Homo sapiens: one gene and its partners. The protein of the gene in region 2 interacts with the protein of the main gene of each other region in a pairwise test. Each region holds a gene or a part of one and is shown on either strand. Other genes may lie near its edges.

The links.
Region 1: the proteins of ABHD16A (region 2) and SEC22B interact in binary tests that used the Homo sapiens proteins (3 or more experiments, as listed by UniProt).
Region 3: the proteins of ABHD16A (region 2) and IFITM3 interact in binary tests that used the Homo sapiens proteins (3 or more experiments, as listed by UniProt).

Annotation. Positions count from the first base shown.
Region 1 is NC_000001.11:120,166,421-120,170,073, reverse strand, and holds part of SEC22B (vesicle-trafficking protein SEC22b), read left to right. Parts: intron 1-1,124; coding exon 1,125-1,234; intron 1,235-3,653. UniProt on the Homo sapiens protein: SNARE involved in targeting and fusion of ER-derived transport vesicles with the Golgi complex as well as Golgi-derived retrograde transport vesicles with the ER.
Region 2 is NC_000006.12:31,693,264-31,696,916, forward strand, and holds part of ABHD16A (phosphatidylserine lipase ABHD16A), read right to left. Parts: intron 170-3,653; coding exon 96-169; intron 1-95. UniProt on the Homo sapiens protein: Phosphatidylserine (PS) lipase that mediates the hydrolysis of phosphatidylserine to generate lysophosphatidylserine (LPS). LPS constitutes a class of signaling lipids that regulates immunological and neurological processes.
Region 3 is NC_000011.10:319,023-322,360, forward strand, and holds IFITM3 (interferon-induced transmembrane protein 3), read right to left. Parts: upstream 1,839-3,338; 5' UTR 1,792-1,838; coding exon 1,543-1,791; intron 969-1,542; coding exon 816-968; 3' UTR 654-815; downstream 1-653.

The DNA of each region.
Region 1 (3,653 bases), on a different chromosome or scaffold from region 2:
GGGCCTATTCCTGGTTCATAGATGTCACCTTCTGGCTGTTTCCTCACATGGTGGATGGAGCAAGCTAGCCCTCTGGGGTCTCTTTTATAAAGGTACTAATCACATTCATGAGGGCTCTACCCTCATGACTTAATCACCTCCCAAAGGTCCCACTTCTTAATACCATCACTTTGGGGGGTTAGGATTTCAACATGAATTTTGTGGGGGATACCAGCAAACATTCAGACTATAGCTGGGTAGCTGGCAGAAAGCTCCCCTACCCCACATGTGGATGGAAAAACAATGTCTATTTGCTTCCCATTCTTCAGGCACTTCCTTTCCCTGTTGGATCTAGTAGATTGGAGATGCATGGTTTTCTTCTTTTGAAATGACACTGCTGGTTTTTCCAGTAGATTTGCCCCCTCTTTTTAACAAAAATAATTGTAAAAGCAGTTAGAAATTGTTCAGGAAAATATTACCTGTAATTATAACATGTGAATGCTATTATTTTCATTTTTGTCTGCATATATCCCTCGATATTCAAACTTTTGCTGTCCAAACTTGGGAACCAAATAGATTTCTTCAGTAAAGGGTATCTGACATCCTAATCTTTGTCTCTACCCTTGGTCATTTTTATGTAATTGCAGTCAAAGTGTTCGTAATAATTTGCAGTCACTAGTACACACATTTAGTTTTGTTTAAATGCTAAAAACTGTAACACTTGTGGAAGGTTCTGCTGGATATTCCAACATAAAAATGAAATTCACCAATCTTGTTCCTAGGATATTCCCCTGAGTATAGCACATGCTGTGTAGTTCTGTGCCAATAACTGCAAATGAAATGGGTTAGGAGGAGAGTACTGTCCTAATAGTGGAAAGAACACTGGATTGAAAGTTAAGAGTGCTTAAGTGTATTTGAGGTATATGCTTTTGCTTCTTAGCAAATAACTAATGCGATCATCTTGAAGAAGTAGGGGTTAGGTCTTCCTCTGTACTCTGAAAGTAGGTTGTCTTTCCTCCGTTAAAATGAATCTTACTTACCTGTAAATGAAGGACCTCATTCAGAGTGTCCTCATAATATGATGCTTCTCACTAATTGATACAGCATTTTGTGGAAAATTCTTAAATGAAGATGTCTTCTTTCAGTCTGGCCGGGACCTTCAACAATATCAGAGTCAGGCTAAGCAACTCTTTCGAAAGTTGAATGAACAGTCCCCTACCAGATGTACCTTGGAAGCAGGAGCCATGACTTTTCAGTGAGTGTAATCTTGATTTCTTTATGATCATTTAAGTGAAATACAGTAACAGAATGCCTGATAAAAAATAATAATTTTTAAAAAGTAAAGATTACTTAAAAATGTTGTCTTTTGGGAGGAGCAACTTCTCTGGCTCTAATTCTACAAAATGGACATCTTGTTGGTTTTTTCAGCATGCTTACAGTAATTTAACCTGTTAACATGTGTCTATGCTGTGCCCATCATGCAATAATAGATAACTTCTTGCTTTAGGACTGTCTTGGAGCCAGATATGTGTAGGTTAGTACCCTTGCTCAAACATTTCCTAACAGTGTAACTTTGAACAGCTCACATAACTTCTCTAAGCCTCAGTTTCCTCTATAAAGTAGTGAAAATAAACATAGGAGGTTTGAGAGGATTGTGAGGGAATCTGTGTGTATTACTTAGCATCTTGTCTGACACACATGGGAAGAGTCAATAATTATTAGTTATTATTATTTTGAAAAAAGAAAATTATAAAAGATAAGAGCATCTTAATCAGTGGTTATAAATGATACAGCTGATAGAGGACTCAAAGGAACATTATTGGATTTTAAATTATCTACAAATAATTGGTATTTAATGTTTAATACATGCCAAGTTTGAAGCTGACAAAATAGGAAGGATTAAAAAGGAAAAGAGTACAAGAGCATCAGAGGAAAATAAAAACGGATTAGTTAAATAATCTTTGCCATTTTAGGGACTTAGATAGTAAGATAACTTAGGCCAGGGAGGAAGCTGCTATGTTTACTTTTAAAAAACAAAACAAAAATTCTCTACCTATAAAAGACAAGTAAAAAGTACATCAAAACAAAAATAAAACCCTAGGCAATTGGCTAAGAAAATGTTGGACATTATGTTTTATGATGTATTAATTTTTATAATATCTGAAATATTTTCTAGAACTCTAATTTTCAACACCAAAAATAGTCACTCACTTAATATCTAGTATCCTCATTTTCACCATGGTTTAGAGAACCAAGACCTAGGAAAGTTCTCATGGAATTGAGAAGAGATTTTCTTCTGCCTGATTCCTTTAGGACATTCATAATCTCATATCATCCTTTATTTCCATCCAAGAGCTATTAAGGGTTTATTCTTTGCCAGACCTTATATTGAGTCCTGCATTTAATGTCCATACCTTTTAACACTGTTCTCTTAGTAGAGAGAGAGACATATACTCAAACAAGTATACTATAATATCTTAATTGAAAAGATGTTGTAAATTAGATTTAAATGAAATGTTTTGGGAACAGAGAGAAGGAAGGAACAAATTCCCATTTGTAGGGGGTAAGTTTGAAGAAACGGGACAGAGGAGGGGAGTATATATAAAGAAGTTTCACAGAAAAAATTATGGTAGAATTGAACATATGAAAATGAACAGGATTTCTCCAGGTATTTAAAAGAGCATTAACGGTTAGAAAAAACAATATAAGCAGAAGTCCACAAATATGTAAAGAACCTAGCATGTTGGAGAACAGTCCGCCATTTGGTTTATTAAAATATATGATAGAATGTTGCTTACACTTGTTTTGAAAGGCTGTAAATATAATACCATGGAGTATGATTTTATTTTGTAGGTATTAGGGAACCCTTAGAGTTTGTAAGCAGGGTAATATGGTCATCTGTAGTCTCTGGGAATAAAACTGATGGTATAGAAGATGGTGTAGACTAAAAGCAAAGAGACCAGTTAACTCAGGTGCCCAAGCAAGGAATAAGACAGCTGTATTATTAATATTATTTTAAGGGGCCTGAGAGATCATATAATAGTCTTTATCCTTTATGGAGCCCTAGGATGCCTCAGGAGCCACATAGAAAGGGCAAGGATGGGAGTATATATAATGCTTTGGGCCCCTAAACTCCTCCTTATGTTTTAAATTTTTCCCTTTTATTTTCAGTTGACATGTAATAATTATACATATTTATGGGATACAGAGTGATATTTCAATACATGTATACAATGTGTAATCAAATCAGAGTAATTAGCATATTCATCACCTCAAACATTTATCATTTCTTTGTGTTGTGAACATTCAAAATCTTGTAGCTTTTTGAAAATACGTGGTAAGTTATAGCTAGCCATATTCACCCTACAGTTCTGCAGAACACCAGAACTCATTCTTCCTATCCAGTTGTAATTTTTTATCCATTAACTTGCCTCTGCCCATCCTCCCCTTCTCTCTACCTTTCCCTACTTCTAATACCCACAATTCTACTCTCTACTTCCATGAGCTCAAAAATTTTTTTTGGCTCCTACATATGAATGAGAACATGCCATATTTATCTTTCTGTGCATGACTGATTTTATTTAACTTAATGTCCTCCAGATTTATCCATGTTGCTGCTAATGATAGAAATTCATTCTTTTTTATGGCTGAATAGTATTCCATGGTGTGTGTGT
Region 2 (3,653 bases):
TGTGACCTGAGAGGGCATGGAGGTGGGAGGGCAGAGCAGAGATTTTCTGGAATGGTTCTAAGGGGAGAGATACAGCAAAAGAACTGGGGCCTCACCGGCTGCTGGGTTCTTCCCAGTGGAAGTCGACTGGCCAGCTCCGGAAGTCAAAGTTGTAGTTGGCAAGCTGCCTCTGCAGTGGGCACGAGAGGCAAAGGGGTACTGAGAACTCAGGGGAGGCTCTCCTACCCACCCTCAACAACACCTTCGTTATCCAGGGGTCTGATCCCCACACATCATGGGGAAACCAAGCGGAGGTCAATACCCTCCCAATTCTCAGATGGAAAATTCTAACAGGACCAGAAAATCAGGGGAGATGGTATGCCCCATCAGGTATCAGGACTGGCCTGTCTGCCCTCTTCCAAGCTAAGAACCTAACACTCTGCTTTTCTAAAAAACTAAGTCTGACCCATCCCCAGGAGGAGTGGCTGAAGGTGCTAGTGCTTTTGAGTGACGGGTAGTAGGGGTCGCTGGCTGGTCACGGTCTATTCCCCACCTGGGTCCCTTATAGGGTGCTGTCTTAGAAGCTTAGAAATCTCCCAGCAGATCACACTGACAGACCCAAGGTTGAGTGAGACAGAGAGGAGGGAAGTCACGCCCACAGTGGGCTCCTCTGCCATGTGGGGCCACCCGTTGAAGGAAGCTCTGACTTCCATCCTCACAACTACATCCCTTCCTCAACTCCTGCAGCCATGGATCAGTGTTGCCCTACAGCCCATCCGAACCTCGGGCCACCCCACTGAGCCAGTCCACATGCCTTTTTTTTTTTTTTTGAGGCAGGGTCTCGTGCTGTTGCCCAGGCTGGAATGCAGTTGGTGCAATCATAGCTCACTGCAGCCTCAAACTCCCAGGCCCAAGTGATCCTCCTACCTTAGCCTCTGGAGTAGCTGGGACTACAGACATGTGCTACCATGCCCAGCTAATTTTTAAAATTTTCTTTAGAGACAAGGTCTTACTATGTTGCCCAGGCTGGTCTCCAACTCCTGGGCTGAAGCGATCCTCCTGCCTTGGCTTCCGAAAGTGCTGGGATTATAGGCATGAACCACCTCACCAGCTCCACGTTTTTTGACGGCAGTGGGAGCTGTGTCTTTTTTTTTTTTTTTTTTTTTGAGATGGAGTCTCACTCTGTCGCCCAGGCTGGAGTGCAGTGGCACGATCTCGGATCACTGCAAGCTCTGCCTCCCGGCTTCACGCCATTCTCCCGCCTCAGCCTCCAAGTAGCTGGGACTACAGGTGCCTGCCACCACCATGCCCGGCTAATTTTTGTACCTTTAGCAGAGATGGGGTTTCACCATGTTAGCCAGGATGGTCTTGATCTCCTGACCTCGTGATCCACCCGCCTCGGCCTTCCAAAGTGCTGGGATTACAGGTGTGAGCCACCGCGCCCGGCCTAGCTGTGTCTTAATACTTGACTATATTCGTCCCCCACCCCCTGAGCTCCTAGCACTCTATTTTGAGGGTTTTTATTTTCTGCACAGAAATTTTTTGACATTTCAAAAATAATTTGACTAACAGAGAGCAATAGAAAAATTATACAAAAAGGTAAATGGCAAAACAAAACAAGATGACTAAAAGCAAATTTCAGGCAGGCTTTGCTCAGACCTGCTCTCAAATCTGGACTTAGCCACTTTCTTGCTCTATGACTCCGAATGGGTCACTTAACCTCTTTTTGCCTCTGTTTTCTCACATTTACAAATAAAGGTAATAATGCCACCTCACTCAGCTGTTGTGAGGATCAGAAAGGGTGTGTGCCAAATGCTTCAGCCAGTAGCATAGTACAGGGCATCATTACGCAGCTCCATAGTGTGGAGTAGCCAGGAATGTGATGATGGTGGTCATAGCTGTTTGATCCTAGAAACCTCCCATAACAGAAAAGAGCTCTATGGGGCCCCAAAGCCCATCCTCAAAGATAATCACAGTCCAGCACCAGCCGGCTTGGCATAATTCCCAAGACACTGAGCCCTAGCTTTTCTCCCTCCTGGCACCATGCTGTACTCCCAGGCATAGGAGTGGACACACCTGTCCACCTTGTCCCATCCACAAACAAGGATAGCATGGTATTCAATGCATACAACAAAATTAAACATTTATAGAACTGAGCTGCTGTGATACAGAGAAAACTACCTTCTAAGAAACATTGTGGGCTGGGTGCAGTGGCTCACACCTGTAATCCCAGCACTTTGGGAGGCCAAGGCAGGTGGATCACCTGAGGTCAGGAGTTTGAGACCAGCCTGACCAACACAGCTAAACCCCATCTCTACTAAAAATACAATATTAGCTGGGCGTGGTGGCGCATGCCTGTAATCCCAGCTACTTGGGAGGCTGAGGCAGGAGAATCGCTTGAACCCAGGAGGCGGAGGTTGCAGTGAGCTGGAATCATGCCATTGCACGCCAGCCTGGGCAACAAGAGCGAAACTCCATCTCAAAAGAAAAAAAAAGAAACACTGTGGGCCAGGCACAGTGGCTCACACCTATAATCCCAGCACTTTGGAAGGCCAAGGCAGGCAGATCGTCTGCAGTCAGGAGTTCAAGACTAGCCTGGCCAACATGATGAAACCCTGTCTCTGCTAAAAATACAAAAATTGGCCAGGCACGGTGGCTCACGCCTGTAATCCCAGCACTTTGGGAGGCCGAGGCAGGCGGATCACAAGGTCAGGAGATCAAGACCATCCTGGCTAACATGGTGAAACCCCGTCTCTACTAAAAATAAAAAAATTAGCCGGGCGTGGTGGCAGGCGCCTGTAGTCCCAGCTACTCAGGGGGCTGAGGCAGGACAATGGCATGAACCCGGGAGGCCGAGCTTGCAGTAAGCTGAGATGGCGCCACTGCACTCCAGCCTGGGCGACAGAGTGAGACTCCGTCTCAAAAAAAAAAAAAAAAAATTAACTGGGCGTGGTGGTGTGCACCTGTAATTCCAGCTACTCAGGAGGCTGAGGCATGAGCATTGTTTGAACCCGGGAGTTGGAGGTTGTAGTAAACTGAGATTGTACCACTATACTCCAGCCTGAGTAAGAGTGAGACTCTGTCTCAAAGAAGAAAAAAAAAAAAAGAGGCCAGGAGTGGTGGCTCACGCCTGTAATCCCAGCACTTTGGGAGGCTGGGGCAGGCAGATCGCCTGAGGTCATGAGTTGGAGACCAGCCTAGCCAACATGGTGAAACCCCGTCTCTACAAAAAATACAAAAATTAGAGGGTGTGGGTGGTGCGTGCCTGTAATCCTAGCTACTCAGGAAGCTGAGACAGGAGAATCACTTGAACCTGGGAGGTGGAGAGTGCAGTGAGCCGAGATCGTGCCATTGCACTCCAGCCTGGGCAACAAGAGCGAAACTCCATCTCAAAAAAAAAAAAAGAAAAAGAAAAAAGAAACATTGTGGAATGTTTCTAGTTTAGCCAGTTCTTACAGGTGAGGGAGGGGGAAGATTGTTCTAGCAGAATATTCCATTAGAAGTGGTAGGGAGGAAAAATTCCTCAGGTGGACAGTTCACTAATGGAGGTGAGAAGGGATACAGCAATGTGCAAGCAAACACCCAGTGTGGTGGGTGGTAAAACACACCTCCTCTTCCTGCAGAAGCCAGTGTCTGGTGCTCTGAGGGACAACTGAGAAAGCTGCTATTGGGTG
Region 3 (3,338 bases), on a different chromosome or scaffold from region 2:
CGGGGGAGCAGGGCCCATACCCGCTGGACGGGAGGGGGCAGCTGCCACGAAGCAGCACCTGGTCACCCAGGAGGGGCTGCGAGGCCCGGGGCTCCTTCAGCTGCTGCCCTGGGCACAAAGCCCCCTCCCTCCCACGGGCCCTGAGCTGCCCACATCTGCAGGACTGGCTGCTCCAGACAGCTCGGAGGCAGGCAGCGCGGTGCCCCCTCCACCCCGAGGAACTAAAGCCAGGTCCCCAGCACCACAGAGCAGGGCCTGGGAGCAGCTGGGGAGCCGGTGCCACCTTGCCCCTCCCTGGCCCTGCTGGGGGCTTAACCCTTCCCTCTGTCCTGAGCCGACAGCCTGGATTGCCGACAGGCCGCGAGCGTGGCCTTGGGCCCAGGGTGTCCCGGACTCAGCACTGACGTTCCCGGAAAGAGCCCACGTTGAGTAGGAGCTGAGACCTGCAGGACACAGGAACTCCTCCCAGGGTCCTGGATCCAGCTGCTGCTCACGGCAGGAGGCCCGAAACCAGAAGGCCTGAGCACTTGCCCGGTCCCCAAGAGATGCACAGAGGCCGGAAGGGGCAGTGCAGGGGCTGACCAACCTGCTCAGTCTCAGAACCACGCTCCGAACCCTCAGCCAGACCCCTCCCCAGGTGAAGTCGCAGCAGCACCAGAAACACGTGCACTTTATTGAATGCCATTGTAGAAAAGCGTGTGAGGATAAAGGGCTGATACAGGACTCGGCTCCGGGGGCAGGGCGAGGAATGGAAGTTGGAGTACGTGGGATACAGGTCATGGGCAGAGCTCCTGGCCTCAGTGATGCCTCCTGATCTATCCATAGGCCTGGAAGATCAGCACTGGGATGACGATGAGCAGAATGGTCATGAGGATGCCCAGAATCAGGGCCCAGATGTTCAGGCACTTGGCGGTGGAGGCATAGGCCTGGGCCCCGGTCACGTCGCCAACCATCTTCCTGTCCCTAGACTGGGGGAGAGGAGATGGTGAGGGGACCAGGATCCCCCAGCTGAGAGCCGCGTGCTATGGCTCCGTCTCCTCATTGGCTCTCCCCGCCCTGAGATCAGGGACCACCTCCTCCCCTTCCTCACCCGGGCTCAGACTCTCCAGGAGCCTCGGGGCTCATCCTCCTTCTGCCTTGACCTCAGCACAGGCTGTTCTCCCCACCATGGGGTGAAGTCACCTGTGAGTTCCCTTCTCACTTTCTGGGAGAGCCTGGGTGCCAGTCTGGAAGGTGAAGGTGTAATTTCTTACTGGGCTATAGGGAGAACTGCTCTGGGCTAGTGGATAGCCGGGGACAGACTCTGAGCCAGCCAGCCAGCCTCCTGGAGCCTCCTCCTAAACCTGCACTGGGCAGATTCCCCAAGCCACACACACACACAGATCACACAGACAAAGCCACTGACGTGGGCACACACGGGACAGAGGTGCACACAAACTCACAGTCACAGGGACACACAAGTCCCCACCCCAGGCAGCATGTGGGCAGGTGGAGCTCCAGGCTCAGCGGCACCCTCTGAGCATTCCCTGGGGCCATACGCACCTTCACGGAGTAGGCGAATGCTATGAAGCCCAGGCAGCAGGGGTTCATGAAGAGGGTGTTGAACAGGGACCAGACGACATGGTCGGGCACGGAGGTCTCGCTGCGGATGTGGATCACGGTGGACGTCGGGGGAGCAGGGTTGTGGGGCGCCCCCAGCACAGCCACCTCGTGCTCCTCCTTGAGCATCTCATAGTTGGGGGGCTGGCCACTGTTGACAGGAGAGAAGAAGGTTTGGACAGTGTGATTCATGGTGTCCAGCGAAGACCAGCGGCGGTCGGGTTACTGGGATGGTTCTCAGTGAGCCCTCCCTTTCCCCAGTAGTTTCGGTTTCTCAACAGTTTCCTTTTCCTGGCATTTGTCAAATCGGGATTTGGCCGGGGCCAGATGAGGGCGGAACAAATTCCTGAGGATCAAATTACTTTAGGAGAGGGAGGAAAGAGGGGCTGAGGGCTAAGAGGGGCTTCCTCTCTAGAGCCCAAGGGAGCACAAGGCTCATCTTGTTAGTGGTGTGGGGTCCTGGAGACTTCCCCTGTGTTGGGGGTCTCCACACCCCAGGCCAGCAGCTGCAGGACCCCACTGTCCCGGTTCAGGGCTCCTGCCAGGCCTGCGCTGACGCCTCCACACTCCAGGCCCCACAACCGTTCCCCCAAAGCCCTCACCTCTGCCGGGCGCCGCGGCTCACGCCTGTAATCCCAGCACTTTGGGAGGCTGAGGTGGGAGGATCATGAGGTCAGGAGATCGAGACCATCCTGGCTGACACGGTGAAACCCCGTCTCCCATAACCCTCACTGTGGTGCCCAGGCAGCTGGATTATCCCATTACCTTCACTATGGTGCCCAGGCAGCTGGATTATCCCATTACCTTCACTATGGTGCCCAGGCAGCTGGATTATCCCATTACCTTCACTATGGTGCCCAGGCAGCTGGATTATCCCATTACCTTCACTATGGTGCCCAGGCAGCTGGATTATCCCATTACCTTCACTATGGTGCCCAGGCAGCTGGATTATCCCATTACCTTCACTATGGTGCCCAGGCAGCTGGATTATCCCATAACCCTCACTGTGGTGCCCAGGCAGCCGGATTATCCCATTACCTTCACTATGGTGCCCAGGCAGCTGGATTATCCCATAACCCTCACTGTGGTGCCCAGGCAGCCGGATTATCCCATTACCTTCAGTGTGGTGCCCAGGCAGCCGGATTATCCCATTACCTTCAGTGTGGTGCCCAGGCAGCTGGATTATCCCATAACCCTCACTGTGGTGCCCAGGCAGCTGGATTATCCCATTACCTTCACTATGGTGCCCAGGCAGCTGGATTATCCCATAACCCTCACTGTGGTGCCCAGGCAGCCGGATTATCCCATTACCTTCAGTGTGGTGCCCAGGCAGCCGGATTATCCCATTACCTTCAGTGTGGTGCCCAGGCAGCTGGATTATCCCATTACCTTCACTATGGTGCCCAGGCAGCTGGATTATCCCATAACCCTCACTGTGGTGCCCAGGCAGCCGGATTATCCCATTACCTTCAGTGTGGTGCCCAGGCAGCCGGATTATCCCATTACCTTCAGTGTGGTGCCCAGGCAGCTGGATTATCCCATAACCCTCACTGTGGTGCCCAGGCAGCTGGATTATCCCATTACCTTCACTATGGTGCCCAGGCAGCTGGATTATCCCATAACCCTCACTGTGGTGCCCAGGCAGCCGGATTATCCCATTACCTTCAGTGTGGTGCCCAGGCAGCCGGATTATCCCATTACCTTCAGTGTGGTGCCCAGGCAGCTGGATTATCCCATAA